Regions from separate parts of the Homo sapiens genome. Here region 1 is linked to region 2. The links come from fine-mapping of genetic effects on plasma protein levels. A gene starts in region 2. The other region holds a variant in brackets. All regions are shown on one strand. Distances are between the middles of the regions.

Region 1 (2,918 bases), 20 kb before region 2:
AGCTATTTTCATGAGGTGGTGATTTCATCTCATTTGAGTATATACCCAGGAGAGGGATTGCTGGGTCATATGTTGTACAGTTGACCCTGAACAACATGGATTCGAACTGCATGGGTCCTTATATGCAAATTTTCTTCTACCTCTCCACCCCTGAGATAGCAAGACCAACCCCTCTTCTTCCTCCCCCTCAGACTACTCAATGTGAAGACAATGAGAATGAAGACCTTTATGATGATCTACTACCACTTAATGAATAGTAAATATATTTGCTCTTCCTTATGACTTTTAGTAGCATTTTATTTTATTTTTTTTGAGACAGAGTTTTGCTCTTGTTGCCCAGACTGGAGTGCAATGGCGTGATCTCGTCTCACTGCAACCTCCGCCTCCTCAGTTCAAGCAATTCTCCAGCCTCAGCCTCCCGAGTAGCTGGGATTACAGGCATCTGCCACCATGCCCGTTGTATTTTTAGTAGAGATGGGGTTTTGTCATATTGGCCAGGCTGCTCTCGAACTCCTGACCTCAGATGATCTGCCCACCTTGGCCTCCCAAAGTTCTGGGATTACAGGCTTGAGCCACCACACCCAGCCTTTAATAACATTTTCTTATTTTCTTTTATCTGGTTTGCTTTATTGTAATAATACAGTATATAATACATATGAAATACAAAATATGTGTTAATTAACTGTATGTTATTGGTAAGGCTTCCAGTCAACAATAGTTTATTAGTAGTTAAATTTTTGAGTAGTCAAAAGTTATGTGTGGATTTTCGACTATGTAGGGGGTTGGCACCTCTACCCCACTCCGTGTTGTTCAAGGGTCATCTGTATTTTTTATTTCTTTAGGAACTCCTATACTGTTTTTCATAATGGCTGTACCAATTTATATTCCCACCAACAATGTACTAGAGTTCCCTTTCTTCTACACCCTTGCCAACATTTGTTATCTCTTGTCTTTTTGATAATAGCCATCCTTATGAGTGTGAGGTTTTATATAGTGGTTTTAATTTGTATTTCCCTTATGGTTAGTGATGTTGAGCACCTTTTTATATGCCTATTGGACTTTCAAATTTTATTTTATTTTTTATTTTATTCTTTTAGGGACAGGATCTCACTCTGTTGCCCAGGCTGGGTGCAGTGGCATGATCATAGCTCACTGAAGCCTCAAACTCCTGGGAACACGTGATCCTCCTGCCTCAGCCTCCCAAGTAGCTGGGTCTACAGGTGCGTGGCACCACACTCAGCTAATATTTTAAAAACTTTTTTGTAGAGACAGGGTCTTATTATGTTGCCAAGGCTGCTGTCAAACTCCTGGGCATGCATGATCCTCCTGCCTCAGCCTCACAAGTAGCTGGGATTACAGGTGCATGGCACCACACTCAGCTAATATTTTTAAAACTTTTTTGTAGAGACAGGGGCCTTGTTATGTTGCCAAGGCTTTTCTCAAACTTCTGGGCTCAAGTGATCCTCCTGCCTCAGCCTCCCAAAGT[G/C]CTGGGATTACAAGTGTGAGCTACCACACCTGGCCTCTATTTTTGGAGAAATGACTGTTCAGGTCCATTGCCCATTTTTTATTTATTTTTAATTAATTAATTAATTAATTTATTTTTAACTTTTAATTAAAAAGTAAACTTTAATATTGAAAATGCAAACTTGGGGAAGACAGAAAAGATCACACACAAGGCTGTCACTTCACACTTGGAAGGTTGCGCAGCGGCCAGGCAGAGGCGCTCCTCACATCCTAGACGGGCGGCAGCTGGGCAGAGGTCCTCCTCACTTCCCAGACAGGGCGGGGGCCGGGCAGAGGCGCTCCTCACATCCCAGACAATGTGGGGGCCAGGCAGAGGCGCTCCTCACTTCCCAGACAGGGCAGCGGCCGGGCAGAGGCGCTCCTCACTTGCCAGAGGGTGGGCGGCTGGGCAGAGGCACTCCTGGGGCGGCAGGGGCGGCAGCTGGGCAGAGGTGTTCCTCAGTTCCCAGACGGTGGGCGGCCGGGCAGAGGCGCTCCTCACTTCCCAGACGGGGCGGCGGCCGGCTTTTCCCATTTTTTAATTGGGTTATTTGTTTTTCTGGTATTGAGTTGTAAGAGTTCTTTATAAATTTTGAGGCCAGGTGTGGTGGCTCACGCCTGTAATCCCAGCACTTTGGGAGGCCAAGGTGGGAGGATTGCTTGAGCCCAGCAGTTCAAGATCAGCCTGGGCAAGATGGCAAGACCTCATCTCTACAAAAAAATTTAAAAATATACAAATTTTGAGTATAATTCCTTATTGGATATGTGGTTGCAATTTTTTTCCCCAGCCCATAGGTCGCCTTTTCGTTTTGTTGATTGTTTCCTTTGCTGTGCAGAAACTTTTAAATTTGATGTCAACTTGTCAGTTTTTGCAAGGAAAAAACCTGATACAATATTGCAACTGTAGATCAATTTGGAGACAATTGACATCTTTACAATATTGAGTCTTCCAATCCATGAACATGGAATATCCCTCCATTTATTTGGGTCTTTTAAAATTTCTCTCAGTAAAGTTATAGTTTTCAGTATAAAGATACTACATTTCTTTTTGTGTGTTTTGAAATTATTGTAAATGGTATCTTTTAAGCTTTCATTTTCTGTTTGTTGCTCTTTATAGAAATGCAATTGATTTTGTATATTATCTTCATATCCAGAGATCTTGCTAAATTCACTTATTAGTTCAAATAGTTGATCCACAGATTATTTTGGATTTTCTATGTGCACAGTCATGTTACCTGAAAATAATGACAGCTTTCTTTCTAATACTTAGGGCTTTATTTCTTTTTCTCGCCTTACTGTACCAGCTAGGACTTCGAGTTGAATAGAAGTGCAAGATAGTGAATAGAAGTTGAATAGGTAGTGTTGAAAAATGTTTAATAATTCATTATTAAATATAAAATTGCTATAGGTATTTT
Region 2 (2,918 bases):
GGCAATGCCATTCAGGACATAGGCATGGGCAAGGACTTCATGACTACAACACCAAAAGCAATGGCAACAAAAGCCAAAATAGACAAAAGGGATCTAATTAAACTAAAGAGCTTCTGTACGGCAAAAGAATCTACCATCAGAGTGAACAGGCAACCTACAGAATGGGAGAAAATTTTTGCAATCTACCCATCTGACAAAGGGCTAATATCCAGAATCTACAAAGAACTTAAACAAATTTATAAGAAAAAAAATCAAACAACCCCATCAAAAAGTGGGCAAAGCATATGAACAGACACTTCTCAAAAGAAGACATTTCTGCAGCCAACAGACACATGAAAAAATGCTCATCATCACTGGCCATCAGAGAAATGCCAATCAAAACCACAATGAGATACCATTTCACACCAGTTAGAATGGCGATCATTAAAAAGTTGGGAAACAACAGATGTTGGAGAGGATGTGGAGAAATAGGAATGCTTTTACACTGTTGGTGGGAGTGTAAATGAGTTCAACCATTGTGGAAGACAGTGTGACGATTCCTCAAGGATCTAGAACTAGAAATATCATTTGACCCAGCCATCCCATTACTGGGTATATACCCAAAGGATTATAAATCATGCTACTTTAAAGACACATGCACCTGTATGTTTATTGTGGCACTATTCACAATTGCAAAGACTTGGAACCAACCCAAATGTCCATTAATGATAGACTGGATTAAGAAAATGTGGCACATGTACACCATGGAATATTATGCAGCCATAAAAACGATGAATTCATGTCCTTTGCAGGGACATGGATGAAGCTGGAAACCATCATTCTCAGCAAACTATCACAAGGACAGAAAACCAAACACTGCATGTTCTCACCCATAGGTGGGAATCAAACAATGAGAACACATGGACACAGGGTGGGGAACATCACACACCGGTGCCTGTCAGGGAGTAGGGGGCTGGGGGAGGGATAGCATTAGGAGAAATACCTAATGTAAATGACGAGTTGATGGGTGCAGCAAACCAACATAACACATGAATACCTATGTAACAAACCTGCACGTTGTGCACATGTACCCTAGAACTTAAAGTATAATAATAATTAAAAAGAAAAAAGAAAAAGAGAAACGAGGGTCTTGCTCTATTGCCCAGGTTGGACTCCTGGGCTGAAGTGATCCCTCTCCTTCTCAATAGCTGGGGCTACAGGAGTGCGTCACCACGCCCGCCTGGCTCAATTCCTGCTCCTTTTGGTCTATAAAGCGGACTGTGGCCCTGGGGTTCATCCGATTGAGTCACCAGTCACTGGAGCTTTACAGGAGAGAGTGGGAGAGGAGGCTCAGAGAGGTCACTCAGGACCCAAAGTGTGCCCAGACGGGCCCTAACTACGTGGCGTGACCTCAGGCGGGGCAAACAGATCAAGGACACAGGGTCCCCACCCACCCTGACCACTCCAGGGTATGCTTAGGTATCCCAAATCTTGCTCTCCGAAGAGATTCAGATAGCGAGAGACACCCTTAACTGTCTCCCGAGGCCGGGATTGGCCAGAGCGGAAGCGGAGACGCACTTCCTAGGGGCGCGTCTGGCACGCACTGCGCAGCCGCGGTGGGAGGAGGCACCGGCCGCGCGGCGGGAGGAGGTGCCGGCCGAGCACCGCAGACAGCGCCGGGAAGATGAGCACGGAAGGTGGTGGCCGTCGCTGCCAGGCACAAGTGTCCCGCCGCATCTCCTTCAGCGCGAGCCACCGATTGTACAGGTAGGGTGTGCACACAGGTACAGCGGCGGGCGGTGGGCGCCGGGCCCCGGAACGTCACCGGGGCGGGGCCGGCGGGCGTGCTGACGTCGGGCCCGGGAGGGGCGCGGGGGCTGCTGGGGCGACGCGCGCTGGTCGGCTTCGTGGGGCTTCGGACGGCCTCCAGCATCCTGATGGGGGCTGGAGTGTCCCCAGCCCTGGAGGGGTGGGGGAGCTTGATGGTTAACGGAGCCGACTGCGGAGGGCGATGGCCCACGTCTGGGTGCGGGGCCCACACCCGGTTCTGCGACTCGAAGAAACGTCTCTGCCCCTAGGAGTCCCTTGGTGTAGACCACAGGGTTGCTGTGAAACTCAGCAGTGTTAAACTCGCCTATGTTACACAGTACCTGGCGCGGCGTAGACACTCAGTAAATGTTAGCTAATCTTGTATGCCAGGAGCATTGGCCACCATATCTAATGTAATTACAAGGCAAATTTTAGCCCCTTTTTTACCAAAGACTGGATGAACCCAGTCCCTGGTGGTCTAGTGGCTAGGAGAAAAAAAAAAAAAAATGAGCCCAGACGTTCAGTTTCCGAAGCAGCATAGTTGGGATTTGAATCCCGATCATACATACTGCTTGCATGCACTGACGAGTTGATTTTGAGGAATTTTACCACGCACTAACCAGCTCCACCCTCTGGCCCTCCGTATCGTCGTCTGTGAAATGAGGATGACCATCGCTATCTAACAGGATTCATCCCTCCATTCGCTAAACCAGGTTTTGTTTCGTGCTTGTCAGGGCTTGTGCTAGGTAACGGATGCATCAGGGATCTTGTATGGGGTTTCCAATCTGGCCTATTTTGTGGAGGGTACACTGAGAAAATTTTGTGCAAAAGACTTTAGCACTCTAAATACAAGAAGTGGCTGAGCAGGAGAAAGTGGGGGTGTGTTATTCCATTTTGCATTGCCACAAAGGAATACTGAGACTGGTATTTTATAAAGAAAAGAGGTTTATTTGGTTCTGCAGGCTGTACAAGAAGCATGGCACCAGCATCTGCTTCTGTTGAGGCCTCAGGGACCTTCCACTCATGGTGGAAGGCGAAGGGCGAGCAAGCAGGCAACTCACAGGGCAAGTGAGGGAGCAAGAGAGAGGAGAGGAGGTGCCAGGCTTTTTTTAACAACCAGCTCGCCCATT

Alleles and levels. Positions count from the first base shown, and alleles are read on the strand shown. Strength reflects both the effect of a copy and how common the allele is.
In carriers of allele G in region 1, the plasma level of the protein whose gene starts at base 1,648 in region 2 tends to be higher than with C alone (moderate association).

The links. PIP is the chance, under the fine-mapping model, that this variant and not a neighbour inherited with it causes the effect. The UK Biobank Pharma Proteomics Project read protein levels with antibody pairs (Olink). The fine-mapping took linkage between variants from a reference panel, not from the people measured, so its PIPs are less certain.
Region 1: its variant is fine-mapped to the plasma level of the PTS protein (UK Biobank, PIP above 0.99).

The regions. Positions count from the first base shown.
Region 1 is chr11:112,204,378-112,207,295 of GRCh38, forward strand. The region is part of intron 8 of BCO2 (beta-carotene oxygenase 2); the gene reads left to right. Among named protein-coding and RNA genes, the nearest start is that of PTS, 21 kb to the right of the region's middle. The variant G/C (reference allele first, on the strand shown) is at 1,487.
Region 2 is chr11:112,224,781-112,227,698 of GRCh38, forward strand. It overlaps PTS (6-pyruvoyltetrahydropterin synthase), which reads left to right and starts at 1,648. Exons shown (of 6, transcript NM_000317.3): 1 at 1,648-1,746. The coding sequence starts at 1,664. RefSeq lists silencers at 1,519-1,928, 2,286-2,580.